Linked DNA regions of Homo sapiens. The protein of the gene in region 3 purifies or fractionates together with the protein of the main gene of each other region. This does not show direct contact. Each region holds a gene or a part of one and is shown on either strand. Other genes may lie near its edges.

What was found.
Region 1: the proteins of NBR1 (region 3) and RO60 purify together in Homo sapiens (affinity purification with mass spectrometry; 2 studies listed by BioGRID and IntAct, with this or other methods). This does not show direct contact.
Region 2: the proteins of NBR1 (region 3) and VANGL2 purify together in Homo sapiens (affinity purification with western blotting, with the first as the bait; 2 studies listed by BioGRID). This does not show direct contact.

Annotation. Positions count from the first base shown.
Region 1 is NC_000001.11:193,082,543-193,093,997, reverse strand, and holds the end of RO60 (RNA-binding protein RO60), read right to left. Parts: intron 11,437-11,455; coding exon 11,290-11,436; intron 9,420-11,289; coding exon 9,267-9,419; 3' UTR 9,010-9,266; coding exon of another isoform or gene 8,996-9,009; 3' UTR 2,779-8,995; downstream 1-2,778. UniProt on the Homo sapiens protein: RNA-binding protein that binds to misfolded non-coding RNAs, pre-5S rRNA, and several small cytoplasmic RNA molecules known as Y RNAs.
Region 2 is NC_000001.11:160,422,515-160,431,576, reverse strand, and holds the end of VANGL2 (vang-like protein 2), read right to left. Parts: intron 7,526-9,062; coding exon 7,294-7,525; intron 6,460-7,293; coding exon 6,199-6,459; 3' UTR 2,907-6,198; downstream 1-2,906. UniProt on the Homo sapiens protein: Involved in the control of early morphogenesis and patterning of both axial midline structures and the development of neural plate. Plays a role in the regulation of planar cell polarity, particularly in the orientation of stereociliary bundles in the cochlea.
Region 3 is NC_000017.11:43,193,047-43,204,501, forward strand, and holds part of NBR1 (next to BRCA1 gene 1 protein), read left to right. Parts: intron 1-47; coding exon 48-207; intron 208-301; coding exon 302-592; intron 593-1,303; coding exon 1,304-1,453; intron 1,454-1,917; coding exon 1,918-1,993; intron 1,994-3,434; coding exon 3,435-3,545; intron 3,546-3,895; coding exon 3,896-4,060; intron 4,061-7,120; coding exon 7,121-7,562; intron 7,563-8,639; coding exon 8,640-8,734; intron 8,735-9,608; coding exon 9,609-9,666; intron 9,667-10,634; coding exon 10,635-10,740; intron 10,741-11,455. UniProt on the Homo sapiens protein: Ubiquitin-binding autophagy adapter that participates in different processes including host defense or intracellular homeostasis.

The DNA.
Region 1 (11,455 bases), on a different chromosome or scaffold from region 3:
CAACATTAGGGAGAGAAGCCTTATCAAAAGCCTCAAAAACTCTACTGAAGGTAATATGATACCTGATTCTCACTATGGCTTTATTTAAAATAGAAGAAATAAACCCTTCTAATATCTGCATCTTAGTCTTCTGAATTAAACTCATTGACTAATAAAAGATTTTTACTTTGGAGGGTTTAGCACTGCATCAAAAAGGAAGCAGATCTCTCCTATTTGTTAAACGCTAAGGAATGAAAGAAAATAACAATAAATCTGACCTCTTTTTGTCATATGGCACATTAAATATCTTTGAAAAAAACCCCAAAACAATAATAACAAAAGCTTGCCGCTCTAAAACGTTTAAAATATCGGACACAATAATAAATTTTTAAAAATGCAAGGCTAAGCAGGTTTTAAAAAGTATAGGGACTCTCCAAGAGGAAAACAAAACCAGGAGCAGAATCCAAGGATATAGGGAAGCACTGAAGCCAGCAGCTCCCTTACTGACAGTGCCAATCGTGGAATGCCAACAGCTTTAGTTTTAACTGTATGCAAGGGGCTGGTTACAAAGCTGGGGGTTAAGGGAGAAAGATTTAGATAGGAGACCACAGCATACCACCACTAAATCTTCAGTTAAAAAAATTCGTAATATACTTTCAGAGCATAGCTGATGATTTGCCAAGACAGACAAGCGTTCAGATCACTAAAGGTGTAACCATTAGGTAGGTGACTTAACCTCCCAGAACTTCAAGTTTCTTATAAAATGTAGGTAATAGTACTTTCCTTTAGGATTTACTTTTTGAGGAATGGAGATAATACATGTAAATCTTTCAGAGTGGTTTTTAATAGACAATACATAATGGCTATCATTAATCACAATGGTTCAGGTATGTGTGTTTTCTTGTGGACCCATCAGGGTTTTCCAAGATTCCTGCCTGTACCCAGCCAAGAATTTAGGGGGCAGGGGAAGCCTCTGGGGTTTCGTGTTGTCTTGGATATTGATTTCCATTTCTTCTCCCTTTCCATACCTTACAGCTGGATAAAAGTAAGATAATGGTGACTAAGAAAAACTTGTAATTTTTTTCCTCAGTCCTTATTTTTACATTTTTTATTTACATTTTTTTTTTTTTTTTTGAGACAGGGTCTCCCTCTGTAGCCCAGGATGGAGAACAGTGGCTCTATCATGGCTCACTGCAGCCTCAAACTCCTGGGCTGAAGTGATCCTCCTACCGTAGCCTTCTGAATAGCTAGGGCTACAGGCACATGCCACCATGCTCAACTAATTCTTTTTAGTTTTTTGTAAATATGGGGGTCTTACTGTGTTGCCCAGCAAGATCCCCATAGTTACAACTTTTTAGTTTTGAACTCCTAGGCTCAAGCAGTCCTCCTCCTTTGGCCTCCTGAAGTGCTATGATTACAGGTGTAAGCCACAATGCCCGGCCCTTTATTTTAAGATCTGAAATACGAGCTGTTTACTGGAGTTCATTAATATAAAAAACTAGGCCATTTTTCACTTTATCATTAGATAATCAATTTACATTTTAATTGCCAAAATATCTGTAATTGAAAAGCTGTTGAAGAAAAAAAGGGATCTTCTGTACCTGGATTTTACTGTTTACTGATAAAAAATTACCATTTGAACAACATCTTTTAAAGTCAGGTTTTCTTCATAAGGTTTAATATTGTTAAAATTTATTAAATCTAGTATGTATAATTTGTGATCCTTCTTGTACAAGTGTTGAAATGAGTGCTGTAAAATCAACCAAATGTTTTGAAGTTTTGGTGAATATATTCTGATGTAACTTGCTTTCAGTTACCCACAGTTCAGATCTTAGAACTTTTCAGAAAATTTTTATGGGAATTGAGAGAAAAATGTCTGCAAATTGGCACTGAAACAGTGTTTTTATTTGCATAGTTGACTTTTTGTGTTTGGATGATAACTTTTGCCAAAGGCAATTTTGAGTAGATCTTTTCACAAAAGAATCCTATTTTAAAACTTTAAATAATTTGTTTTCATTAAATCTAATCATTTTGTTATAATTGAATTCCATGGGTAAAGAATCTTTAACTTCATATACTTTTAATACTTACATAAAACTAGATACATTAAAAGGTCAATATTAATTATCAAAACTTAAATTTTACCTTGTTCAAATACAAGATTACTAAAGGCTTTAGATTTTTTAAGGCATATTATAACCTTAACATTCGTATTTCTTGAAAGAGATAGACAGACACTTGTTTAATGTGCATAGAGTTTATTTGGTACATCTATCAATTTCTACAATAACTGACCAAAAACAGTTCACACAGTGTCCACCTGCACTCCATGTCTAAAATGATTTATTTAGTAGGGTATTTTGCAAGGCTAGAAAGGAGAGAAAGGATTTCACAGTATCAGTGAAAACTGTTTTATCATGAAACAAATGTAATACATTAATATATTCATTCATTCTCTATTAGAAAACAGCAAAATTACATTGTTAGTTGTATTATTTACAGTGAAAACTTGGAAGACTTGACAAAGCATCAGTTAGTTTATCAACAGACCTAGGAAGCTCCCTGTCCCCTCCTTTCAGGGTCCTTTCCTTGGAAATGAAATAAACTTAAATCAGATTTTACATAACTTTAAGCACCAGCTTGACAATTTAAAGTTTTATTTCAGTTTTATAAAATACTCCTGCTTTGAAAGGCAAAGTGAATGTAAAAATGTGAATGTAATTAAACAAGTCACTGGCCTGGAAACTTTTTATTGCAATAGTCTTTATGTTTTACTACTATATTCACTTCTTGGAATGAATTTGCTTGTAGGTTTGAAACAAAATATTTGCCTTTTGTCTTGAAAAATTCCCTTAAAAAATTAATTATTTTTGGAACTGTACAACTACATTTTCATTCGATGTTAAATATGCAACTTGGTCCTTGGATATCATGTTACAAAGTCCAACCTGTTGGATAACTTGTTATAGAAAACAATAAAAAACCTTAAACTATCATAAAATATTACTGATGTTAACAGTCATGTATGTATAACACATCACTGTATCTAGATTTTCCTGTTATTGGATGTTTAAATTACCAATGTACAATCAGGTTTTAAAATGTAATACTTAAATTTCCATTCACTATGTAAAATTAAAAGCTCTAAAAGACCCTTTGAGTTCTGTATTTCAGAAACATTAGAACACTATTAAGGCATTATTTAAACAGACCCCAAGGAAAGTAACTAGTATGCCTGAATTACAGAGCAAGTAGTATTTTAAGGCAGTCAAAAGGTTCATTTTTTCACTTTAAGGCTCTTGAATACTTAAGTTTATTCTATGTAGACATTATTCTGTGTAATTTAAATATTCATCAAATGGTCAGTTATTGAAATCAAAGCCTTTATATAAAGCAAATGGACAGTTTAGAACTAGATTATAATACCCCACTCCCCACTGGTTTTTATAAAAGATGATTCTTATATCTCATCCCTTTGGAAAATTTCATTATCAGAAGCTGGCAATAAAAGGAAAAACATATAACTGAAATACATTACAGAAGTTATGCCCAGTCACGCCATACCAGATATAGAGAGTCCATATTCAGAGTAACAGTGCAACAAAAACACTTTGAGTACTATTCATTAATTGTATATTTTAAATCTAATTTGGCTACGTATGGATTATATATAGTTTACGTTACAAATAAAGCCAAGTTTCAATATGTTTGTTGATATAATATTCCCTCAATTATATCTGGTAATGATATTTAAAACAGCAGGGTTTTAATTTCATTTACTGTCTTTATCCACATATCCATATCCACATCGAAGTGAAACCAGCAGACATATAGCTAATTTACTATTTCCTTTGTTCAAGCATATATTCTGATATCTAAAAGTGCATAAATTTAAACAACTTAAGATGAAAAGTTGGCCAGGTGCGGTGGCTCACGCCTGTAATCCTAGCACTTTGGAAGGCCGAGGCGGACAGATCACGAGGTCACGAGATCGAGGCCAGCCTGACCAACATGGTGAAACCCCGTCTCTACTAAAAATACAAAAATTAGGTGGGCGTGGTGGCGCGTGCCTGTAATCCCAGCTACTTGGGAGGCTGAGGCAGGAGAATTGCTTGAACCTGGGAAATGGAGGTTGCAGTGAGCTGAGATCGCGCCACCGCACTCCAGCCTGGTGACGGAGTGAGACTCTGTCTCAAAAAAAAAAAAAAAAAGAAAAGTTAAATATCATTTATGTTCATAAAATTAATGTGGTGCATGGCAGGGCTAAATAAAACAGAAGCAAAGGGAAAAATCTTTTTAGGATGAGAAGGTTAGCTTTTGTATATTTTTGTTGTATATATAAATTCATTCTCACTGAAAATAATCATCGTAATTTCCACAATAGAATTTTCTAAGATGTTCTCCACTAGTTTTTTCTTTCCACTATTTTCCAATATAACTTGGTATTTTCAGGGTTTAAGGAATTGTGCCATTTATTATAATTTTATTCAAACAGTATGCTTAACTACATTATTAGTTTTATACATGAAAAATACTACCTTAGAATTAAATTTTAACTTCATAATTTTCAAAAAAGCAAATTAAAAAATGCACCAATTAAAAAAAAGCCAAATGTGAGTAAGTTATCTACAAGACTTTTTATGCCACAAGCAACGTATCTCTATATATGCTCAGTGAAATATTTAGTAAACCAAAGATTTTGACAATGGTCTTTATAATTATGGAAAAAAAGCATTGAGACACCTGCTATTTTCTGAAAGAGTAATCAGTTAATTATTTTTCTAAGAGTGCTTATATAGTAAGCACTTATCTTTTCAACATAGCTAGATAACATAATTACAAAGGCTGAATAACTGATCTTAAAGGCCACAGAATTTCTGCAAACATCTAATATAAAAGATATACAATATAATTTGATTTGGGGAGGAGTGTATCAATCTACTTATTGTTCCAAGAAGCCTGCCTATTACTAAGTTGAAAAAGAAAATATGATCTTATACTTGTATGAAACAAAAAGCAATCTGCAAAAGGTTCATCCCAAACCTCTATGTGGGTGACTTTCCTGTCATTCATTTTATTATCCAGATAGAGAAGGACTAGAAAAAGAAACAACAGAAATGTAAGAAAGGAATTTTAAAAGAAAAAAAAGAGGTAGAAAAGTAATCTTCCAACAAATAAGAGATGAGGAAACAGACATCAAGGAAACACTAAATAAAATCCAAACAGTAAATACAACTAATTTCATTGATTAACCTGTCATTTTTTTTTACAAATTCTTTCTTGTGCATGTTTACACTGATGCCATATGACATTTCTCCAGAGGGGATAGTGCCTTAACAATCACCCCAAACCTGCAGTATATAAGACTAGAATTTTTCATTTTTGATTACCTACTGTAATAGCATCAGTTACCAAGAAATTTGTTATTTGTGGCTACAACAGGTCAAGTTAAAGTAAGTCCAACAAAACATTACAATGATTTAGGCTTTAGTTATTTAGGTGTAGCTTTACTATGCTTTTAAAGGTGTTTCTCACTTAATTGTGAGACCTTCAGATTTATTCAAGAATCCTACCTTATCTTTCCAAAATAATTTCACATTGTTTCTGTAAAATCTAGAAAATAAGAAAAAAAAAATCCCTGATGAAAATAGTACTTTACTATTTGTAGATTTACTGGTTACTTTAAAAGATTAAGAGAATGTTTGCTGGCTGGGTGCAGTGGCTCATGCCTCTAATTCCAGCACTTCGGGAGGCCAAGGCAGGAAGATCCCTTGAGCCCAGGAGTTTGACACCAGCCTGGGCAACACAGTGAGACGTTGTCTCTTAAAAAAAAAAAAAAAAAAAAAAAAAAAAAAAGCAGGCGTGGTAGTGCAGTGCACACCAGTGTTCCTGGCTACTTGGGAAGATCACTTGAACTTGGGAGGTCAAGGCTGCAGTGAGCTGTGATCATGCCACTCCAGCCTGGGTGACAGAGGGATAGCCTGTCTCAAAAAAAAAAGTTTGTTAACAGCATTTCCTCAGAGTATAAGCTTGTTTTTCTAGGTCTGTCCAAGAAGATCTTGGAGTATATTTTTTCTCCCTCTTCAGTAGAGAATAGTGACTTTTTGGGTAATACTTTAGCTGTGAAAATTTTTCTTCTAAATTTTTCTACTCTGAACAGGAATGTTTTAAAACACTGTTAGGCCTATTGAGTGAGCTATTTTTCTAAAACATTTTATCTTTTGAAATACGTATCTTATTAACAAGAATGTTTTTAACCAAAAAAAAAAAGAATTCTAACTTGTATTGCAAGCCCTCTTCCCAGTTTCAATTTTTATACAAATATTAAATCACTGATTCTTCTATGATCCAAGCACAGATATGTTACTTTTTAAGGATAAAAATAATCAAATCACTTAGGTTAAACTGGTTGTCTACAGTCACACAGTAAGTTAGATAAAGCAAAGGAGGTGTCAAAGGGTAACACTAAATTCCATTCACTAGCATCTTGCCTCACTAACACTCTCATAAGATAGATTACTAAATAATATAAGTATTAATAAATGGAATTTCCAAGAACTTTCAACTAATAAAGGGTGGGATTATAAGATTAGTTTTTGTTTTACTAATTACAACTATATCCTGGAACTATTTACATACTACCTAGGAAATAAAGTTTGTTTATTCTTGCAGGATTGTTTTTAAAAGCAGTATTTTCCCAAATATTAATTTAACAGTAATCCTAAAAGTAACTCAGGAAATAAAAAACTTATCACTTCAGTACATTTTATTCATAATGAGGTAAAGTTTTTGTTTTTTCTCTATATATGTAGATATATATAGCAACACAGGTTAATTGTGCTTGAGGATTCCTATGAATTACAAGATTATACATGTTCCCATTCTATTTTTCTACTCCTAAAGCAATCGTATATACATTATTTCCTAATAACTCAATAAGGTAAAAGTCTTAAATAATTTTATTTTATCCTCTACTCTTCTGAGACCATGTATTCCCATGTTGTGGGGAAATAAATTCTGGCACAGGAATGAAGAGACCAAGATTTCTAGGTTATAGTACTTCAAAATCACACTCTGTCTTGGACCTCAGCTCTCTAACAAAAATTTAAAAAATTAGCTTTTAGGTTTCTAAGGTTTCTTCCAGCTCAAATATGCCATGATTTGAAAAGTTACCTTCTGTGGTAGCTTCTCCTACTTATCCTTTCTTTCTTAAATGTTACCCTAGTCCATTTAATTAGACCTACCTAAATACTTCAGAAAGGTCATATCCATCCAATCTTGTATCCTTGATGGATTTAATATTAACTTATAGATATATTTGTCTAAAAGTATTATGGAAATAGTACACAACTGAAGGTAATGCACTTTTGTACTATATTCTATTTAACATTTCTATTAGGAATAAAATGATCATGTTATAATTTTTAAGATCTTGGGTTTACTTAAACAATTCAATAACTATTACGTAATTCTATTAGTTTCTTTAAACTTTAAATTCAATCTGAACGTAATATTTTAATGTGTCAAAAGTAGCTAATATATTCAGTTCAATGCTTGACAGGGTTAAAAACGTGAACAACATCAGAAGCAATGCATGTCTGGAGTGGGGGTGAGGGTGCTATGAGCTTTGCTGAACAAAAATATCTCAGGTAAATCACACTTAAAAACTGATACCAGTTGCCTTGAAGGAATGGGTACATATCAAAACCAGCATTAATATGTCAAATAAATTTGAAAGGAATATTTTCTTATTCCCAGAGCCCAAATTTCACATAAAACAGAAGAAAATATGTACAGAAATCCTCAGACTACTAAAGTCCCCCTTTCCCAAAAAACATAAACCCTCTAACCCCCAAGCACCTAAAAGGCTATAATTTACATTAACTACAGTTTGACTTTTCACATAACAGCGAGAAGGACCTTACAAATCCTCAGTAAATCTTCAATTAATATTTAGAGAACAACAGATACGCAAACAGGTTTTATGTGTAAGCTACCTTAGACGGCCATAATAAAATTATGAGCAAAGATAATGGCATTTCAACAGATTGCTTTAATGTTAAACCTCACAATGAAGGATACTTGCTCAATAAAATAATGCACTTTAGTGTAATGAAAAGTTTAATACATACAAATAATACTGAAAAAAATTCCTAGTGACTGGCTAGCTGGTAATATGCTACTCAAAAATTGCCTTTCAAACCTAAAGGACCTAGATTGCTTTATTATTTGTTTACACTATCAAAGAAGAATATTTTGCCACAAAATGAATAATGGACAAAGAGGCCATTGACATGTATACTTTTAAAAATATTAACTAAAAAAATAGTTAAAAGTAAAAAATTTTATTTTAAAAGTAAGGAAAAAGCTAAACTGGTTATAGTTGAGATTTTAATTGTTATACTTTGTGAATGAGGGGGAGTTAAGCGCTTGAAACATTTTATATTATTTACACTTAAGAGTATGAAAAACAGTGTGAGACTACATCTGGCTATGTTATTATAATTCAGAGGAAATCATTATCAAGTCACACCCCTTGTAGCAATAAAATATAACAAAGCAAAAAAAAAAAAGCAAACCAAATAGAATCCCTCAGCCAACACAAACTTAGTCTATTCTTAGGGGTTGCCATGATGTTTCTGATTAATGGTAACATATTCCACAAGTGCAAATAAAACATCAGAAATAAAATATCTTTTTCACTGAATAAGAAAGCTGTTATTTGTGTGATCTTAGTAAAACTCTGAAAGGAATTTGTAAAACTCATTCATAATTTAATCAAATGCCTTAGTTTTTTTTTTTACCCCCTTGGTATAAAAGTTTACAGATGAGTTTCATATTTCATCACAGTTATATGGTCTAGTGCATTTCAGAGTATTTGGACATTATCAAAGCTGTCCTTTCCCAATGAAAACATTTAAGAAAACGTTAAGCACTTCTCAAGTAACATGATGTGGAATTACACTTTTTGCTCTTACCTCTTTTAGGTACACACGTATTATTCAACAAAGCAAAACTATTTTACAGTGTCTGTTAACAAAAAGTTCTCTATTAGATAGAGGAAACTACAGTATCCTGAAGCTATTTCCCCAAGAGCTAGTTTAGTAGATAGACCTTTGGGCCCATCTTATTTTTCCTTCTTTTTTTTTTTTCAGTAAGGTAACTTTCCATTATGCACATACTATACCATCATCATTCATTGGGTGGAGATTAGCTGGGAAGTAGCTGTATATTTTTAGTGAGATCACTGATGGCAATGGATCTCTGGATCGTGCTGCTGCTTATGGTTAAATCATATCTAATGTGAAATTTCGAATTACATCCAGAGCTCCAGTATCAAAGCCGCACATATCCAACATGCCTCTATCATCTGGGTCTGCAATGGTGAAACCATTTGATGTCATTCCACAAACAATCAATTTAGCTGGAATATCCATTTTCTGTAGAAAAAGACCAAAATACATATTAAAAACATAAATGTAAGGAAATGCAAAATACCTCCAAAATTAAAACACTTTAACATTTCTCTACCAGAGCTTTTTAAATACAAAGTCATTTTTTTGCGGGGGTCAATCTTTTAAGGCTAGAATATGGGAGTTTTAGAAGAAGGGACAATAAAATTGTATAAGAATCTGCCTGAAATTTCTACTTCTCTCTTCAATTACTTTACTTGTTCTATGGGCTGCAGTGTACATTATTGAGCAGCCTAGGCACTTTGTACTTATGAAACCTGTCAGGTTATTAAGGGTGCCAGATATTTTTATCAACATATCAAATGCTGGGGCAGTGTGTATGAGTATATATAAGGACATATCTCTGGGATGATCAACTTTTGGCTGATGACTTTGATATGTGCGATATACACATGTTCCACGTAAGAACTTGTCCTCTACAGCTAAATGTAAGATTAAAATAATTGAATTTTTGAGAAAAACCAACAATCACTGAATGTATACACATGAGAAACTACAATGCACTGTTTAAATAATACATCTACCGTAACTGTTAAAACAACTCTAAGAGGTAAGTAACTTACTATGATGTAGATCAGTTAAATAATTTGCTCAGGTCCACACAGAGTAAGAGAAAGACTCGGGACTCACAACCAAACAGTCTTTACTCTACATTCTATCCTGGTTGGGCAGTGCCTCATGGCTGTAATCTCAGTGCTTTGGGAGGCCAGAATTTCAAGTTACAGTAAGCTATGATAGCACCATTGCACTCCAGTGATGGAGACCCCATTTCTTAAAAAAACAAAACAAAACAAAACAAAACTATTCCCTTACCTGCAGCTTTCAAACTTAAGCCTGCATCAGAAATCCTCTGGAGGGCTTGTTAAAACACAGTCCCAACGTCAGAGTTTCTGATTCAGCAGGTCTCTGACGGGCCTCAGGAATTTGCATTTCTAATACGGTCGCAGGTGAGGCTAAGACTGCTGGTAGGGAAACCACACTTTGAGAACCACTACTCTTCATCAACAAGTTCTATTTCTACTTCTAGTCACACTAGCCATATTTTAAGTGCTCAAAAGTCCCATGTGATTAGTGGCAACCCACATTGGAGAGTGAAGATTTATGTCATTTCAGAAAGCTCAACTGGAGGATACTGATTAGAACACAGATATGTCCATAAAACATAGAGCATAGATTATAGCTTTAATTTTATGTAATCCTTTTGCAAAACTCACTAATACTTTCAATTTTTCAAGGAGCACACTGAATTATTAAAAAAAACTTACAGCTAAGGTAAAACAAATATTCTGATTATTACCAAAAATACTGTTTGCAAAGGATATTCTTAGTAATGTTTAGCAATGGAAACTGGTTAAAATAAATTTTATGTGTGTAATCAATACTTTTTCTTATTTTAAGTACTGCTGAGTCTATAACGGACACTGGCTCCTATATAAGATACAGAACTACTTGTAGTAACATTTTTTGAAACACATAAGTGAATAAGAATCAAGAATGGCCAGGTGTGGTGGCTGTAATCCCAGCACGTTGGGAAGCCAAGGCTGGAGAATCGCTTGAGCCTAGGAGTTTGAGACCAGCCTGGGCAACATGGTGAAACCCCATTCCTACAAAAAATTAGGTGGGCATGGTGGCACGCTCCTGTAGTTCCAGCTACTTGGGAGGCTGTGGTGGGAGAATCACTTAAGCCTGGGAGGTTGAGGTTGCAGTGAGCTATGACTGAGCCACTGCACTCCAGCCAGGGCAACAGAATGAGGTCCTGTCTCCAAAAAAAAAAAAAAAAAATCAAGTATTAAAATAATATTATTTGGGTGAGGAACCGTATTAGAATTTGTTTTACCTTTCGATACTCCCTCAGAGCAATAGCAGGATGGACACCTCCAGCAAAGGTCTCATTATCAGTGAATACAATGAAGACATCAGCAGGTGTGTTTGTCTTCTGAGCCCAGATCATTGGAAGAGAGCAATCAGTTCCACCTGCTGGGATCTAATTCGGAACAAAAGCA
Region 2 (9,062 bases), on a different chromosome or scaffold from region 3:
ATCTCGGCTCACCACAACCTCTGCCTCCCGGGTTCAAGTGATTCTCCTGCCTCAGCCTCCCAAGTAGCTGAGATTACAGGCATGTGCCACCACGCCCAGCTAATTTTTGTATTATTAGTAGAGACGTGGTTTTACCATCTTGGCCAGGCTAGTCGCGAACTCCTGACCTCAGGTGATCCACCCGCCTCGGCCTCCCAAAGTGCTGAGATTATAAGCGTGAGCCACTGCGCCCAGCCATACTCCTAATTTTTATAACCTTATAACCAAAGTCATTCCCCTTACAGGATATCAGAGTACAGATGGCTATTTTTGACAAGTGACATCAAAATAGTTTACATATCAGGCTCAATACCCTCACACACTGTTGGCTTCAGTCTGCCTTTTACAGATGGTATTTACCACCTCCAGGAAAATAGTGTGCTTCCTCGGGTTGCCTACAACATATGACAAAATAAAATTTCCCAACTTATCTAGCAAAAGTCCCATGAGCTCCAAGGGGAGGGGGCCAATGTTTTATTTATCTTTGTATCACAATGCCTACCACACAGTAAGTGTGCCCCCAAAACTTGCTGAGATGAAATGAGAGAAGCCAATGCCTTGGCCAGGTTTCCCAACTCTAAACCAGTACCTTCTCCCACTATTCTACATACTCAAATGTGGCATTCACTGTTATGAGCAGGTAGGATGTCATGTCTGCCCTGCCGTTTGTACCAAGAGAAATGGACCCCATTCTCAGCCTGAAAAGAAACTGGGGAGCTAGACAGGGATGACTATTCTCCAAGATTTACTATGTAGGTGGTCCTTTATTATCTCTCTAGCATCTTCCATGACCATGTGTACACTAATGCTGCAGTGCTTTTCCAAAGGCTGACTTTCCCCTACCCCAGCCTTCCTGGCAATTGGAAGAGCATTACTATCATATGCTTAAAGTAACAAAAAAGCCAAGGGTTACCTTAAGCAAGCTGACTTTCAGTCTGTAGAAGCCATTAAACTATCCCAAACAAACAAAAAAAAATAGTAACAAAAAAATTAAAATTAAAAAATAAAAAACTAATAACAAATCACTGAGACCTTGGTCTAAAGATCTTTATGTCTCCTCAGCCAGAGCCCCAGCCCCCAGTTCCCCCTCTCGGCTGTATTTCAAAGGCAAAGGCTAAAAAACAAAAATCACACATGGGCAGCATATGTAATCACATATAATCACATATAATGTCATGAAGTCCCAGGCATGACCCTGACAATCCACCAAGCTGGGTCCCTAACTTCAGTGCTATGTGAAGAACTTCTGTGGAAAACACATCCTTTCAAACAAAAGTTACAAATACCCTTTGCTGCCTGACAAATGGTCAGGATTATCACTTTTGCTTGCAGCAAACCTCTAGAGAAAATATGATCTTATCAATCAAATATTGAGGTCTGGCTTTAAATCTATGAATTCCTGGGGCCAGCATTACAAGAGGAGGTCCCTGAGGTTAACTAGCCTTCTCAAGGGTCCACCAAGGTTAGCTCAGTGAGGGCAGGACCATATCCAGTATCTTTACCAGAGAAAGTACTTTAGTATCAGGCTGGGAACATCATAGGCACTAAATAAAGAATAAACTTAAAAGGTGTTTACTATACTTGGCTGTTGAGAACAAGAATAATTTCAGAGGCATGCTAAGGTAGAAATTTGGTCACAATGTAAGTCACAAGTTGACTCTGAAATGAACTGGAAACAGCAAGTGAAACTATTCTACAAACCTAGTTACAGAAAGAACAGAGCCGTGAGAATGGGGATGCAATTTCAAGGGAAGTATTTTTGTTTGTTTTCACATGAGAAAGACTGGAGTGCAATTTTAAAGGGAGAAGCAAGTATATGATCCCTTTCATGAGCCCCTATTGTATTGTTAGTTGTTCAGTTCATTATTCATGCAACAATTTTTTATTGAGGACCAACTATATGCGAGGAACTGGTTTCAATTCTAGGAATACTTAGATGAACAAAATGTAATCTCAAGGTGAGTGTGTTCCCCCATCTTGAGTCTTAAACAAACTTCCTAGATTTCTTGAAGGAAACTCCCCGAGCTCCTTGGAATCCAGCCAGGGTTTGTCTACACTCTGCCTGAGAACACGCCATGAAGCCTTGCACTAGGGTCACCCAGCCTGTCACCCCTGTAAACTGGGTCATCCTCCAGGATGGAGCCTCTCTTGCCTTTGCATCCCCAGAGCCTGGCAGAGTATGAGGCAGGGGAGAGGAGGAGGAAATCTAGTGAATAGGCCACCTCCATACAGAAATGCTTGTTTTTAACCTTAGCAGGCTGTTTACATGCTAAGCATCTTGCCCAAAGTCACAGAGGTCAGGCCCAGGTAAGACTGGGAGAAGGGACCCAATCTCTTGAGGGTGATTTTAGTACCTGATTACATGCATTACAGTGACAACAGAGCACTGAACTCTCTACATATTTAGAACTAATATATATACTACAGAAACTTGTCTCAATGAATTGTGATGGGCTGTCACCACTGACTGAAATCTCAACTATCCCCTGAAATTCCTATGGCACTTTATGTTTTAGAAATACGTTTTAGAAACCCACTCCTGCCCTAGAGGCCATACAGACACAAGCTTGCTCAGGAGGGTGGACCCAGGAAGTAATCTTTCTTTCTCTATCCTGACAACTACACCAGGAAGTGGTTAAGCCCTCACATTGTTGTTTCTCTCTCTTTAGAATCAGGATTCAGAATAAGCAATTTCCTTTTTCATTTTCCCATTTCTCTCCAACACACCCTGAAGGCCTGCAGAGCAATGATGAGCTCACACTGCCCCCTCCTGCCCATTCCCTCCCTAACAAGGAATATATTCATTATTCCCTGGCCCTCATTTGCTCCCATTCCTGTAAAGAAAGAAAAGCAACAGAATGCCCCCACAAAAGTCAAATGTCTTTATTTTATATAAAAAAAATTTGTACAGTTTTAGTTCCTATGTTTAAGAAAAAAATCCTAAAATTGCCGTAATGTTTAGATCCACTGCAAACTGTAGAAACAAGCTTTTTATATATTAAAAAAAATTTACATTTTACAATTTTCTACATGCATGCACAAGGTCTCAGCTCTGTAACCCCACCCCCCCAAAAAAAAGGAAAAAAAATCTAGATCCAACAGTGGAAAATTCTACATTTACAATCTCACTTGGAAGGGACTCAAAAAGCCCTCTTCCTTTTGCGCACGGAAGAACAAATCACAACAATCACACACCAGGACTGAATCCATCAGCAGATACTGCCCTGTGGGAAGGGCAGAGGAAAGAGAAGACAGACGGACTGACAGACACCACAGAGGAACAGGGGAGTTAGCCTGGGACCAATGGAGGAGAAGTACGAACCCTGGGAAAAAGACGTGTCAGATGAGAAAGTTCCGGAGAGTCCGATGTCTCATCGCAGGTGTTACATCATCAGGGTTTGCCATTGGAATACTGAGTGGAGATGGGAAAGAGAAAAGTTAAGGGCTGAAATGGGAGGGGAATGGGAAGAAAAAATGAGAGACAAGAGGGAAATAAGAAAAAACAAAGAGAGCACAAAGACCAGTTTAGGAGAAAGGACCAATGGGGACAGTGGCAGAGTGGCGAGGTAGGTGAAGGACTGAGGCACAGCGTCCTGTTGTGGAGGGAGGAAAGGCAAGCGTTCCGAGGTGGTGAAAAGGAAGGCCTGCTAGGCACGGTGGGGATGAACGAGGATGCCATGAGTCACACAAAAGACAGTGCTGGTGAGGCCCAGCCACAGCAGCCCTATGGTGTCAAGGGGGTAAGAGGTGGGCATACCCCCACAGCAGGAGAATGAGCAGATCCAGCGCATGATGGGACAGACACAGTGGGGAAACTGCTCAGAGGGACTGAGTCAGCTGCACACCCCACAGCAGTTCACAGCATGGAGACAACTTCCCACAGGGGAGAAGCAGAGGACAAACACATGGCCATATGTCTGACAATTCATCCTGACATTTTAAAAAACAATAGTAATAATAATAATAATAATAATAATAATAATGAAAAAAGACAAAGATACCACAGTTCTGAAGCAAAAGACCAAAATGCTACCATTCTCAGGCACAGCCCTTAGTGCTTAGAGAGTTGGAGGCAAAAAATTTTTTTTAGGAAAGGGGAATGAAAAAAAAATCACAGTGATTAAAAACATGGCAGGATCTTAAAATAAACACTCCCCAGCCCCTAACCTAGGGCAGCAACTAAGATCCCAAATCCTTTCCCTCTCCCCCACCCCAACCTGCTCCTCAGACCACACCACACTCCATCCTGTCCACAAAGGCAATGACCCCAGTCACCATCCAGGCCCTGTTTTCCAGGATAGTGAGGTATTTATGTGACTCAGAAGGGACTCTCTGACACAAAGTTTTTGAAGAGAAGAAAAGAGACAGACCCCCAGAACAGGACATATTTCATACAGGCCTATCTCATAACCCTGGCCCCAGCCAGAGGCCCTGCCTAAGTGAGCTCCACAACCCACCCCTTTGGGGACAAGGTAAGCATTGGCCAATGAGCTCCTCTCTAGCATGCGGTGGGTAAACAAGTGAACTTTTGCAGAAAGGACAGCAGGAGAAACCCCGATCACTAGGCTCCATCATTCCCAGGGCTGGTGCTACACAGAGGGGGAGCCTCCCAGGGGAGACACTGGGGATCTTATCCCAGGATGTGCTCTGCAAGGTAAGTACCAACCAGTCTTTCAGGGAAAAGAAGGGCCTACAAAAGGACACTGTGAGTTACTCAGAGGAATGGCCTAGTCATTGCAGCCATCAGAAAGGTCCTCCATGTGGATCCTGGCTGGATGTATATGGGTACTTCCTAATTCTACTCTCCTTGGCAAAAATGTCTGAGTCAAAGGCTCAGATTTATATTGAAAATATTTATTAGAGGGCCAGCAAATTTTGCTCAAAATGAGATCTAAATTATCAAGAATTTGGATTTGGTGCAAAGACTATGGAAGCTAAAATGGGGTGAGGGGTGAAGTACCTACAAAAGGCAGTAATCCTTGCCCCTCAACCCAATACAGACGGAGCCCAGAGCTCAGAGAATCAGGCAGGGAGAAAAGGGGTGGGGACCCTGGAAGGCCAAGGAAACGAGACCCCTGAGGCAAAGAACTGGACTTAAGGCAGGGGATGAGGAGGAGCTGCCGGCTCTTCCCCAAAAGAGATGAGGCAACAGGTCTCTGGAGTCGAGAGAAGGCGGCAGGACAGGGGTGGCTGGTGACAAAAATAAAAACATTTGTCTAAGACCACAGGGGCTGGGTCAGGGTCTGCAAGCCACTATGTCTGTACAGGAGTCTACATACCATCCTTCACTGGGAAGAGCGGGGACGAAAGTGAGGGTAGGGTTAGGGAGCAGGAGTCAGTGATGGGGGTCTCTCCAAAACCTCAGGGATCTATTCAGCCCTCCTCCTCAGGGGCTGCCTAGGAAGACACATTGGAAGAAAGGTACCTTCCCCTAAGTCCCTGGAAAAGTGGTCACAGAGGGTTTCCACGTGGTTGCCTATGGTCACGTGACCATACAAACCAAAAACATTAGGTGGAGATTTCTGGGAAAAGGATGGGATCCTTCTTTGCTCTAAATATATGTGGAAGCAAATGCTCCTAGCAAGGAGATTTCTAACTCGGGCTGTGTGGCAGGAGTATCCCTGCCCTAGAACCCAGGGTTTGTTGTGGCTGGGGTGAGGGACAGGAGGGCCAGTTGCTGCCCTGGAGGAGTTTGGCACTGTGGCTCTCTGGAGTCATGTCCATGTGCCCCAGAGAAACCCTGTTGGGCCACTGAAGAGAAATGTTTTAAGAACTTGGATTTGTGAGTCGGGGCTCAGGAGGGGAAAGTACAATCAGCAGGGCCCTGTGCCCTTTCAGGAGAGACTGTAATCTGGGAAAAGACTAGGGAAAGAAGAGGGAGAGAGGCACTGATTCCTGCAGGGCCTAGAGTAATACAAAAGTTGTTGGTGAGGTGGGAGTCCTTCCCAGGTACTGTTGACAGCAGGATGGTCTCTCCAGGTTCACATGGGGTAAAATAAGGAAGAAGCGAGGAGAGAAGGTGGGGGTGCGTTAATTCAAGTAAAAAAAAAAGAGCAAGAAGAAGAAGGGTGGCAGGAATGTGGCTGGGCCTGAGAACCAAGCCCCCTCCCACCCCCTCAGGACCCCCCAGAGTTTCCCACTCCCCCTGCTGTTGCACAGTCACACTGAGGTCTCAGACTGCAGCCTCATGACAAACTTGTGTGACTTGGGATCCACAAATTCCTCGGAGAGTTTGAAGAATGGGACCTTCTTGGTGCTGACCACCAGGCTGAAGTCCTGGCGTTTTAAGAGGAAAACGATGCCATCCTTGAGGCCGTTGGTCACCGGCTCCTCGCTCACCAATGTCCACTGTTTGGCCAGCCAGCGTTCCTTGTGGTACTGGATGGTAGGTCCAGCCGCCAAGTATCGCTCCAAGAAGGCCTGAAGTGGAAAGAAGGGGCTGCATAAGAATCTCTGTCATCTACCCACGGTCCTTCATCCCCTAGGTCATAGTTTCCAAAGACAAGAAGGACGTCCCTGAGCTCACTCTATGCATATGAACTAGAACCTCAGAATGTTACAGCAGGAAGGGGCCTGAGATCATCTGCTTCAGACCCTCATTTTATAAATGAAGAAGCCGGAGTGCACAGGGGGATGTGGCTCATCAGGTAGGACTGAACTCGGCTCCCCTGACCCCCATCTGCTGCTCTTCTCCCTGCACCAGGCTGTGACCTGGGCAAGCCCTCCCTCATTCTTCCTTCCTTCCCACACAGCTTGTATGATTCGTGCCAAGCAGGTCTGCACCAGGAGGGAGCCAAAGGTGTCAAGGTTAAAGTGCAACATCTTTAGTTACCTGCTCACCAAGGGTGGCTCAGGGAAAGCAATTCTAGGAAGCTGGCAATAGAGTTGAAGGTGGGCAATGGCTCAAAATGACACAAAGCCAAGACCAGCTAGTGGAGGTGAAGAGGGTAATGGAGGTGAAAGTGGGCCTTTGGATCTGGTAATTCCGGAGCCCTCATAGAGATGAGAAATAAGTCTCAGCCATCCCCAAAATGGTCCTGAGGACTCCCTTCTCCTCATCTACCTAAAGACTTCACCCCACACAGATGGGGCAGGTGGAATAGGAATGAGAGAGAAGATTATAAAAAGGAGGTGGTGAGGAGAGAGAAATGAGGTGGACAGTGAGGAAAGTAGTGAGAGAATAAGGGAAAATGAAGGTGGGAAAGAAGAGGAGCTGGGGAAGGAGGAAGGATGCTGGCAGCAGGGCAGGCCTACCTTGGGCGTCATGTCATGCGTGATGCAGAATTCAAGGTGCTGCAGGATGCTCTCCATGGTGTGGTAGGGCTGCTGCTTGGTGGTCCGAAGGTACTTCTGCATGGCACGGGCCATGGATGCAAAGATGGCTTGGGCTGCCTCCCGGGGGTCCATCACCTCCCTGGGGTTTTTCTGCTCCTCTTCCTGCAGCCGCTTAATGTGAGTGAAGGCCTCCTCCACCGCCACTACAAGCCTAGGGGACAGGAGGGGACTGGGCCAGATGCCCACCTCTCTTTCCCCCACCCCACCCCTCTCCCCTAGCTCCAACACTCCAGCAGCCTGAATGAGGTCAGGCCTTTGTGCTCACCCAAAGTAATACAAAGCCAGAGGCAATAGTGCCTTTCTGCCACTGGGAACAGTAAACAGCCACAGAGTTCAGTGGGCCCAGCCCAGGGACTCAGAGGGCAAACCTAGTGTCAAACCCAGAGAGACAACTAGGAACTATGCTATAGGAAAGACAAAGCATTCCACCAAACTTTAAGGAAAACCTTCTTAAATAAGACCCCCAAATCATACTTCATTGGCTCAACAATTAATAGATATGATTACATCAAAATGACAGATTTCTGTTCAACCATGACAGCATGGGCAACATTAACTGACATCTGATGGAGCTGGGGAAAATATACACATCTAAAACCAACAAGGGATTCAGATCTAGAACATGCAAAGAATTTGCTACAATTTCTATCAAGAAGAAAAAGACAGGAAACCTAGAGAAAAAAGGGCAAAGGAGGTGAACAGAAAATTCACAAGAGGACTGAAAGGCTAAAAGATATACGAAGTAGTTACTGGCTAGCAATTAGAGAGATGCAAATGAAAATGTTAGTAAAATATTACTTTTCCATCAAAATGGAAAAAAGAAAGAAGGTAACTATAAACCAAATATTGGATAGGATGTTGGGAGTATTCCATGAACTACTATGCAGCAAAAAGATGCAACAAACTAGATGTACAGACAACTTGGATGAATCTCAAAAACACAGTGTTAAGGAGGAAGCAGGAAAAAAAAATCCATTTACATTAAAAGCATATAGATGGCCGGGTGTGGTGGCTCATGCCTATAATCCCAGCACTTTGGGAGGGTGAGACAGGTGGATCACCTGAGGTCAGGAGTTCAAGACCAGCCTGGCCAACATGGCAAAACCCCATCTTTACTAAAAATACAAAAATTAGCTGGGCATGCTGGTGTGCATCTGTAATCCCAGCTACTGGGGAGGCTGAGGCAGGAAAATTACTTGAACCCAGGAGGCGGAGGTTGCAGTGAGCTGAGATCATGCCACTGCACTCCAGCCTGGGGGACAGAGCAAGACTCCATCTCAATAAAAAAAAAAAAAAAAGCATACATACAGACACACACACCAACACCAACAAAGATCACTACACTAACACTAACTTTGCACAAGGATACATATAGCTTTTAAGGAAGTCAAACACACTCAACAGGATGCCTAAAATGTGGCGCTGGAGTGAAAGTGGGAACTGGAGGAAAAGAAGAAACAGAATAAAGAACCATGAAAAACTCTATAATGACAATATGTTAGAAGCTGAAAAGAGCAATTAATGCAATTATCTGCACTTCAAGTCCAAAAACCAAAATAAAAGCCCCCTGGCCTAAGAGCAGGACCAGCCTGAAGTGACAGGACAAAGAAAGAAAGTGAGGCCTTCTATGCAGAACCCAGGAACCTGAGTCATTTCAGATGGGACTCTGGGTATATAGGTGTGGATCT
Region 3 (11,455 bases):
CCTTCACACCCAACAGCAAGTGACTAAGCATCTGAATTTCTGTTCAGGCTCCCTTTGCAGCCCTGTACCTCCGTTATGCCAATGCTCAGTGCAGCATTTGTGGATGAGAATTTGCCTGATGGGACTCACCTTCAGCCAGGAACCAAGTTTATCAAACACTGGAGGATGAAAAATACAGGAAATGTAAAGTGGAGTGCAGACACAAAGGTAATTTTTCCCACAAAATGCAAAGATGAGGTGATTTGAAGTGGCAGAGTGCTCAGCTGACAAGCTTGCTTTCTCTTCTTACTGTTCTTTTCAGCTCAAGTTCATGTGGGGAAACCTGACTTTGGCTTCCACAGAAAAGAAGGATGTTTTGGTTCCCTGCCTCAAGGCCGGCCATGTGGGAGTTGTATCTGTGGAGTTCATTGCCCCAGCCTTGGAGGGAACGTATACTTCCCATTGGCGTCTTTCTCACAAAGGCCAGCAATTTGGGCCTCGGGTCTGGTGCAGTATCATAGTAGATCCTTTCCCCTCCGAAGAGAGCCCTGATAACATTGAAAAGGGCATGATCAGCTCAAGCAAAACTGATGATCTCACCTGCCAGCAAGAGGTGAGCATTGACTGACAGGCTTTGGCCTAGTATCCAAATCTTAGTTAGAGAGGAGATGGCTAAAACTAAAAGAACCCACTCATAGCTGGTTGTTTTCCAGAAACCTTGAAAGGTTAGCATCTCCCCCCGCCCCAACACATCTCTATGCTGATATTTGGCCTCTTCCTTAGGGTGTTTGTTTTAGCGTCTTTAGGGTCTTGCTGCATACTGAATACTTTTGTACCTCTTTGTGATGTTGCATGGTCAGCCTGTTGGCTGCACAAGGGAAAAAGGGACTCCTGGCCTGGGCTGGCCTGTGGAACTGCTGAACTGATAGCTTTACTCCTTAACATCCATCTCTCCTGAAATACCCTGTGTATGTTCCCTAAATACTAATGAAGTCTTGCCCTGGTTGCTACTTAGTGAACAGTTTTTTAATGCAATTTCTCTGTATTAGTGGGGCAGAGTGTTTACTGCTTAAAGTTATCCAATGTTAATTTTCTGGTTTTGACTATTATAGTTAATATAAGTTATCGTCATTAGGGGAAGCTGGGGAATGTGAATTCTCTCTGCTGTTTTTACAACTTTTTCTATAACTGTAAAAATATATCAAAAACATTGTTTTTTAAAATATGGAGGTACAGCAGCGTTTTTATTTTTGGGGGCATTGTCAGCCTGCCTCTTCAGTTCTGTTGAAGGCCTAAAATTTGTCTCAATGGTTTGTCTCTATAGGAAACTTTTCTTCTGGCTAAAGAAGAAAGACAGCTTGGTGAAGTGACTGAGCAGACAGAAGGGACAGCAGCCTGCATCCCACAGAAGGCAAAAAATGTTGCCAGTGAGAGGGAGCTCTACATCCCATCTGTGGATCTTCTGACTGCCCAGGTGGAAGATTCAGCACTTTGAAGGGCAAGGGACAGAGGGAGAGAGCACAGGAGAGAAGGTGGTAGAGCCATAGGCAGTAATCAGGAAATCAGAGATATGCCCACTTTGATCTAGTCAGGTATATTTAATGGGAAGGAGATCACCCATGGAAGCAAGTTTGTAAACTAGATGTTTCCTCTTTGAATTGGGAACTCAATCCTGTACTTCCCCACAAACTCCCTTTAGTTGCCTCTTCACCTTGGCCTAGCTAATTCTCCTTCATACCTGCTGCATTTTCTCTTTCCTGCTATTGGGTTATTTCAACATCTAATTCCCATTTAACTCTTCTTGTTTTCACTTGTCTGGGGACAGGCATGAATTTGAACAGAGTTGAATACGAAATGATGTGGAAATGGTCTACAGGTCCCATCAAGACATGGCTCCAGCATGCACTCCAAACAGCCTAACATTGTCTTTTTTTATAGGACCTGCTGTCCTTTGAGCTGTTGGATATAAACATTGTTCAAGAGTTGGAGAGAGTGCCCCACAACACCCCTGTGGGTAAGAATGTCACTCATTTCATCTTGTTCGTCTTACTAATAGGCACAAAAGTACCACAGCCTAGACACTGGTAGTGTTTTATTCTGAGGAAATGGCAAGGATTTCTCCCACAGTAGGATAGTAAAGCAGCAATCATGGATCCGTTTTTCTTCTTTCCTGTCCTTTGTCAAAAGTAACAACATGCTGGGCATGGTGGCTCGTGTCTATAATCCCAGCTCTTTGGGAGGCCAAGGCAGGAGGATCACTTGAGGCCAGGGTTTGAGACCAGCCTGGGCAACATGGTGAAACCCCCATCTCTACAAAAATTACTTTTAAAAATTAGCTGGGTGTGGCCAGGCACGGTGGCTCACGCCTGTAATCCCAGCACTTTGGGAGGCTGAGACGGGCAGATCACCTGAGGTCGGGAGTTTGAGACCAGCCTGACCAACATGGAGAAACCCCTTCTCTACTAAAAATACAAAATTAGCTGGGCATGGTGGCACATGCCTGTAATCCGAACTACTCGGGAGGCTGAGGCGGGAGAATTGCTTGAACCCAGAAGGCGGAGGTTGTGGTGAGCTGAGATTGCACCATTGCACTCCAGCCAGGACAACAAGAGCAAAACTCCGTCTCAAAAAAAAAAAAAAAAAAAATTAGCTTGGCATGGTGGCCTGCACCTGTGGTCCCAGCTACCAGGGAGACTGAAGTGGGAGAATCTCCTGATCCCAGGAGGCAGAGGCTGCAGTGAGCCAGGATTGTGCCATTGCTCTCCAGCCTGGATGACAGAGTGAAACCCAATCTCAAAAAACAAACAAAAAAAAGAGGCTGGGCACGGTAGCTCACGCCTGTAATCCCAGCACTTTGGGAGGCCAAGGCTGGTGGATCACAAGGTCAGAAGTTCAAGACCAGCCTGGCCAAGATGGTGAAACCCCATCTCTACTAAAAATACAAAAATTAGCCAGGCATGGTGGCAGGTGCCTGTAATCCCAGCTACTCGGGAGGCTGAGGCAGAGAGTTGCTTGAACCTGGGAGGCGGAGGTTGCAGTGAGCCGAGATTGTGCCACTGCATTCTAGCCTGGGTGACAGAGCAAGACTGCATCTCAAAAAAAAAAAAAAAAGCAATAAAACAAGTTCGTGCAAGGCTTTTCCACTATAAAGGAATCCTCTTCTCTTTTTTCCCTCTAGATACTTGTGTCCTTTTGTTCCTTTATGTTCATGGTTTTGTGTCTTGGCCACAGCTTTCCAGGCTAAATAACTGTGATTCTTCCTGCATTGATTGATCTGAGATATTTTGCTTACTTATTGGTCTGGAGAAATTTTTTGTAACAGACCTCAAAGCATATCTTGGTTTATTTTAGCCCTGCGGGAGGCAAGAAGCCTACAAACTGCTACTTCTGGACACTGACTGTTGATGATATGATGCTTTCTCTTGATTGATGGTTCTCCTGTCTTCATTCTCCAGATGTGACTCCCTGCATGTCTCCTCTGCCACATGACAGTCCTTTAATAGAGAAGCCAGGCTTGGGGCAGATAGAGGAAGAGAATGAAGGGGCAGGATTTAAAGCACTTCCTGGTAAGGGATTAAACATTTGTAAAGTATTTGCATCCTCCCTTTCCATATCATACCCTATTTTACAGCTATCCCCTACTGACCCTACCTTAGCATGTAAATGGGCTTGCTTTCTGTAGCATCTCATGTTTTGAAGTCTCCTCACCTTCACATGGCACAGATAGCAGCTATTCCTTGGTTTAGTTTTAGCATGGGTAATGACTGGTGAATGTTCTTCAGCACTTTAAACACCAAGTGCAGACAAAGTTTAGATAGCAGCTATTCCTTGGTTTAGTTTTAGCATGGGTAATGACTGGTGAATGTTCCTCAGCACTTTAAACACCCAGTGCAGATAAGGTTCGTGTGTCTTTCAGATTCTATGGTGTCAGTAAAGAGGAAGGCTGAGAACATTGCTTCTGTGGAGGAAGCAGAAGAAGACCTGAGTGGGACCCAGTTTGTGTGTGAGACAGTAATCCGATCCCTTACCTTGGATGCTGCCCCAGACCACAACCCTCCTTGCAGACAGAAGTCCTTGCAGAGTGAGTGTCCTTGCATTTCCCCTACCTAGCAGGGTGGCACCTGAATTGTGACTGCCAGACTTGACTAGTTAGATGTGCTCTTCTTCACTGAGACTGAAGGGAGAGTGATCTTAGTTAGAAGTTCTGATCTTGGCGGGGCGTGGTGGCTCAAGCCTGTAATCCCAGCACTTTGGGAGGCCAAGGCAGGCGGATCACAAGGTCAGGAGATCAAGTCCATCCTGGCTAACATGGTGAAATCCCATCTCTACTAAAAATACAAAAAATTAGCCTGGCGACGTGGCGGGTGCCTGTAGTCCCAGCTACTCGGGAGGCTGAGGCAGGAGAATGGCATGAACCCGGGAGGCGGAGCTTGCAGTGAGCCAAGATTGCGCCACTGCACTCTAGCCTGGGCGACAAAGCGAGACTCCATCTCAAAAAAAAAAAAAGAAATTCTGATCTTGTTTGTGTCTTTAGACTCTACGTATGCTACCTGACTGTTCTAATTAGAGCATCAGGAGTAAAGAAGCCATCATACTCATTTCTCCATCTTCTCAGGGGCAGAATTACAGCTGCATTCCACAGTGGAATAGCAGCCAGTTGTGCTGCCTGGATTCTGCAGTAAGGAATCTTCCTGTAATTTGACAGAGCTCCTTAGCAGAGACCCCTATGGGTAGCTGAGTTGTCTGCTTTCTCCAAGGGCAGCAGTCCCAGAAACAGTGGATAGAAGCAGGAGTACCAACAAAGTTTCTCAAGGTTAAATTCTGCTGTAATAAATACCTTTATAGGCCGGGCACAGTGGCTCACCCTTGTAATCCTAGCACTTTATGAGGCTGAGGCGGGTGGATCACCTGAGGTTGGGAGTTCGAGACCAGCCTGACCGACATGGAGAAACCCCATCTCTACTAAAAATACTAAAAATTAGCCAGGTGTGGTGGCTACATGCCAAGGATTACATGCCTGTAATCCCAGGTACTTGGGAGGCTGAGGCAGGAGAATCACTTTAACCCGGGAGGCGAAGGCTGTGGTTAGCCGAGATGGCGCCATTGCACTCCAGCCTGGCAACAAGAGTGAAACTCCGTCTCAAAAAAAAAAAAAGGAATAAATACCTTTATAACAGAAACTTCTAGGTATCAGATAGATAGAACCAATAGCATATATTTTAAGAAGTATCCAAAAATTCAAATATACTATGTCAAAATAATATTGGAGAATCTCTTTATTATAATCAAATTTGACCTATATCTTTAAATATTATTTATCTTACTTTTGTTTAAAGTATACATGTAAGGCCAGGCGCAGTGGCTCACGCCTGTAATCCCAGCACTTTGTGAGGCCGAGGCGGACAGATCACAAGCTCAGGAGTTTGAGACCAGCCTGACCAACATGGAGAAACCCCATTTCTACTAAAAATACAAAAATTAGCTGGGCGTGGTAGCGTGTGCCTGTGATCCAGCTACTCAAGACGCTGAGGCAGGAGAACTGCTTGAACCCGGGAAGCCAAGGTTGCAGTGAGCTGAGATCGCACCACTGCACTCCAGCCTGGGTGACAGAGCGAGACTCCGTCTAAAAAAAAAAAATAATAAAGTGTACATGTGGCCAGGTGCGGTGGCTCATACCTGTAATCCCAGCACGTTGGGAGGCCGAGGTGGGCGGATCATGAGGTCAGGAGATGAAGACTATCCTGGCTAACACGGTGAAACCCCATCTCTACTAAAAATACAAAAAATAAGCTGGGTGTGGTGGCGGGCGCACCTGTAATCCCAGCTACTCGGGAGGCTGAGGCAGGAGAATGGCGTGAACCTGGGAGGTGCAGCTTGCAGTGAGCTGAGATCATGCTACTGCACTTCAGCCTGGGCAACAGAGTGAGACTCCATCTCAAATCAATCAGTCATGTATATCTTTATATTTTTTTCCACATGTGTGTACAAATACATAACAAAAAGGTCTGGAAAGACAGTACCAAAATGTTCACAGCTGTTATTCTGATAGGATTTATGGGTAATTTTTTTTTTTTTTTTGAGATAAGGTCTCACTCGCCCAGGCTAAAGTGCGAGTAGCAAGTTTATGGCTCATTGCAGCCACAACATCCTGGGGTCCCCCTACCTCTGTTTCCCAAGCAACTGGGACCACAGCCACATGCTACCACAATGAGCTAAATTTTTTTTTTTTTGTAGAGATGGGATTTCGCCACGTTGCCCAGGCTGGTCCCAAACTTCTGAGCTCAAGCAGTCTGCCTGCCTTGGCCTCCCAACGTGCTGGGATTTTAGGCGTAAGCCACCACACCTGGCCTGGGTAGCTTTTTTTTTTTTTGGGACACAGTCTCTGTCACCCAGGCTGGAGTGCAGCAGCGCGGTCTCGGCTGACTGCAACCTCCGCCTTCCCAGGTTCACACCATTCTCCTGCCTCAGCCTCCCGAGTAGCTGGCACTACAGGCGCCCGCCACCATGCCCGGGTAATTTTTTTGTATTTTTAGTAGAGATGGGGTTTCACCGTGTTAGCCAGGATGGCCTTGATATCCTGACCTCATGATCTGCCCACGTTGGCCTCCCAAAGTGCTGGGATTACAAGCGTGAGCCACCGTGCCTGGCCCTGGGTAGCTTTTTTCTATCCTTTTTTACCCTCTCAAACATGATTGGCCAGTTTTCTCCCATGACTGCATCATCTTTGTAAAGAAGAGGAGGAGATAGACATATAATCCTGCAATACTCATCTCCTAACTTTTTCTCTTTTTATAGCACTGTTAGTGTATCAGTTTTGGTTTAAACTCTACTCAGTATATTAACCATCACATAAAAAGGAAAAAAGGGATGGAGCTGCCTCCTTTTATGATTCATAGAGCTTCTTGGAAACCTGAGTGTTTCTGCCTACCTTGTTTCTGTGAGCTTTGATTCTATTTTGTTTTGCATAGTCTTCAAACTTAGAATATGGTCATAGTTCCAGAACCAGCCCTTCCCTTTAGTTCTTCCCTCTCCTCTGGCTTTCATAATTCTAGCTTATGATCCACAAGGCTTTACCAAGTAAGGATAGTACTTAGGCCTGCTTTTAGCTTCCACCTTAAAATTGGTTGCTTTCATCCTTTAGTGACATTTGCCTTGCCTGAAGGACCACTTGGAAATGAGAAGGAGGAGATTATCCATATCGCTGAGGAAGAAGCTGTCATGGAGGAGGAGGAGGATGAGGAGGATGAGGAGGAGGAGGATGAGCTCAAAGATGAAGTTCAAAGTCAGTCCTCTGCTTCCTCAGAGGATTACATCATCATCCTGCCTGAGTGCTTTGATACCAGCCGCCCCCTGGGGGATTCTATGTACAGCTCTGCGCTCTCACAGCCAGGCCTGGAGCGAGGTGCTGAAGGCAAGCCTGGGGTTGAGGCTGGGCAGGAACCAGCTGAGGCTGGGGAAAGACTCCCTGGAGGGGAGAACCAGCCACAGGAGCACAGCATAAGTGACATCCTCACGACCTCACAGACTCTGGAAACAGTGCCCCTAATCCCAGAGGTAGTGGAGCTTCCACCGTCACTGCCCAGGTACCACTCACAGCCCCCTCAGCTGGGGTGTTCTTCAGAGGTGAAATAAAGAGAGGAATCGACCTGATCTCAAAACCTGTTTTTTCCTCAGTATGGAAAGAGACTATTTTCCATAGCAAAGTCTGAATTTAGATGAATAAAAGTTGTATTTCCCAGTATTTGTGGATTCTGGATTTAAAGAAATATTTGTTTTAGTTGGCCTTAAATTATCTGAGTATAGTCTGTCTGCTTATATTTTGATTATTGAGAGCTGGTTGTGTTTTTTTTTTTTTTTTTTTGAGACAGGGTCTCAGTCTGTTGCCCAGGCTGGAGTGCAGTGGCACAATCTTGGCTCACTGCCACCTCTGCCTCTGAGGCTCAAGCAATCTTCCCACCTCAGCCCCCTGAGTAGCTGGGACTATAGGCATGGGCCACCACACCTAGCTAATTTTTGTATTTATTGTAGAAGCGGGGTTTTGCCACGTTGTCCAGGCTGGTCTTGAACTCCTGGCCTTAAGCGATCCAACTGCCTGGGTCTCCCAAAATGCTGGAATTACAGGTGTGAGCCACTATGCCTGGCTGAGAGCCAGTTTTTAAACACAAACATCCCTGGACCTTCCCTCCTTGTTTTATTGACTCTTCAGTAAAGGCAGCAAAAACTCAACCCAAACAGTCATAATTAGGAAGTTAAATCCATTATGGGAAAAAACACTATAAAACCAAACTAATTATTTTTAATTCTCTGGTGAATCTATCTGAATCATTCTTGTCTCCTAATAGTAGGGAAAATGCTGGAGCCTTGACTATAATGTAAACCATTCTCCCCAAAAGCTAGACATTTCCGTTTATTGACACCACTTGATATAGGTGGGGACATGACCAGACTGAAGCCAACATTTCTAGCTTGCCTGTGGCTAAAGAGGAAAATGGGGTAGAATGTAGCCCTTATGATGGAACCCTAAATCCAGACATGTGATCTGGATCAGAAATGTGAAGCCTCTGTAGAGAATTTGGCACTGCTGTGCTGTGTTTACTATTTCTCCACTGTTGCCATAAGTGCCTTTTCAATTTACTTTCCATATTGTGTCTTTCTGAAAGGAGCTCTCCTTGTGTACATCATCATGGTTCCCCAGGAGTGGATTTACCAGTTACCATACCAGAAGTTTCTTCAGTCCCTGATCAGATCAGAGGAGGTAATGATCAGCCTAAGCTTTTTCTCTTTTTCTCTGCTCCTGTCTAATGGAAACCAGGTATAAATAGCCTCTCTCTCTTCGTGATTCTTGGTGGTTTTTTGAAACTTGCCCTTCACAGGCCAGGCGTGGTGGCTCACACCTGTAATCCCAACACTTTGGGAGGCCAAGGCAGGCGGATCATAGGGTCAGGAGTTCGAGACCAGCCTGGCCAACATAGTGAAACCCTGTCTCTACTAAAAAATAGCAAAAATTAACCAGGCATGGTGGCGGGCACCTGTAATCCCAGCTACTTGGGAGGCTGAGGCAGGAGAATCACATGAACCTGGGAGGCGGAGGTTGGAGTGAGCCGAGATCGCACCATTGCTCTCCAGCCCGGGCAACAGTGCGAGACTCCGTCTGAAAAAAAAAAAAAAAAAACTTGCCCTTCACTCTCTCCATGCTCCTCCTGCATACTCTAATTTCTATTCTCTGGCTGAATATATTGTTAGACCTCATAGAGGTAGTGGAAAGAACACAGGCTTTGGAGCCAAACAATCTAGGTTCCAGCTCCATCTCCCCCTTTCCTGACTAGCAGTTCAGCAGGTTTCTAATGGCTGTGAGTCTGTTTTCTTACTACAAAATATATCAGTGTGTTAGGATTATAGAGTTGATTTTTCTGATTCAATAAACAATCATCTTGCATTGCATTTCTGGACAGTTTCTCCTTATCACTTAAACTACCCTTAAAACTTCCCAAATACTTTAAAAAAAAAAAAAAAAGACTTCAAACACTGTGATCAGATTGCCACCTGCCTCAATAATAGCCTTGCTGTGAGTTAGGAAACAGTAGGTGCTTATGGATGCTGCATCTAACCAACAGCTCTTTTGCTTTTAGAGCCCAGAGGCTCATCAGGACTTGTAAACAGCAGACAGAAGAGCTATGACCACTCAAGGTAACAACCTTGTGCAGTCTCTTTTTTCAGAAGCAGGTGGATATTCTTGTATTCCTTCTGCTTAAAAGAGCCTCTCACAGTATGTACCCATCTTCAGAGAGCAGAGAAGGGGAGCCTTTGTTCCGTCTTATTCTTGTTTCTTCTAAAGGCTTTGAGCAACACTGAACAAACGGCTAAAGCTGATGTTTAAGAGTGTTCTGTTTGGGAGGCCGAGGCGGGTGGATCATGAGGTCAGGAGTTCAAGATCAGCCTGGCCAACATAGCGAAACCCCATGTCTACTAAAAATACAAAAATTAGCCAGGCATGGTGGCGGGCACCTGTAATCCCAGCTACTCAGGAGGCTGAGGTGGGAGAATTGCTTGAACCCAGGAGGCGGAGGTTGCAGTGAGCTGAGATTGCACCATTGCACTCCAGCCTGGCTGACAAGTGAAACAACATCAAAAAAAAAAAAGAGTGTTTTATGTTTCAGACAAGGAAATAGTGTCCACAAATTACCTCACTCTTAGCACTGGGGAAAAGGTAGAAAGGTTAAGCCCAGTATACATTTAAATAATTTTTTCTTGGACATACCTGGTTCTCTGCTTCCACTCATATTAGGCCAGTGTCCAGAAAATCACATTTCCTTTGCAAGGTGTTTTCTCTGAGAGAATAATTGAGCAGACAAACTGTTGATATCCTTGTGTGTCCTCGATCACATTAATTTTCAGCTAGGAGTGAGAGCCATCATGGTTACCAGAGTGGTGTGTTTCCTGCAGTGCCCCTATCTTGCTTGCACCAGTAGAGCTGGGCCCTCCATCAAACCATGATCTGTAGCTATAAAGCTGATAATGAAAGCAATTGTGTTCTCTTTTTCCATCTAATTTTTTCTCTTAAGGAAATCTTATTCCAAGGATTAGAGCCCAGATTATCTTGTAAAAAGGTAATGATTTGTGTTTGTTTGGGGAGATAATTTGGTTTTCCTCTGCAGGCACCATCATGGGAGCAGCATTGCTGGAGGACTGGTGAAGGGGGCTTTGTCTGTTGCTGCCTCTGCATACAAGGCCCTGTTTGCTGGGCCACCAGTCACTGCACAGGTCAGTGTGTGTGTTTTATTTTCCTGAATCTCAACTCCATGTCACCAGTGAAAGTGATGGCATCTGTCTGGGTTGAAGAGTAACATGGCATTGTGGAAAGGGCATAGGCTTTAGATTTAGTCTTTAGTTAACACACAACACAACTCTGCCACTTTTTTTTTTTTTTTTTGAGACGAAGTCTCGCTCTGTTGCCCAGGCTGGGGTGCAGTGGCGCGATCTCGGCTCACTGCAAGCTCCACCTCCTGGGTTCACACCATTCTCCTGACTCAGCCTCCCGAGTAGCTGGGACTACAGGCGCCTGCCACTACACCCGGCTAATTTTTTGTATTTTTTAGTAGAGACGATGTTTCACCGTGTTAGCCAGGATGGTCTCAATCTCGTGACTTCATGATCTTCCCGCTTCAGCCTCCCAAAGTGCTGGGATTACAGGTGTGAGCCACCGCACCTGGCCAACTCTGCCACTTTCTAACTATATGACTTTAGCCAAGTTACTTAAGGGAAGAAAAGAGAAGAATGTATTATTGATGATCTATTAATATTTTCTATAGAGAGAAGCTATTCCAGGTGTTGGCACTATGGCATGAATAAAACACCAGTTCTTGGCCGGGTATGGTGGCTCTTACCTGTAATCCTAGTACTTTGGGAGGCCAAGGTGGGAGGATTGCTTGAGCCCAGGAGTTTGAGACCAGCCTGGGCAACATAGTGAGACCCCCAT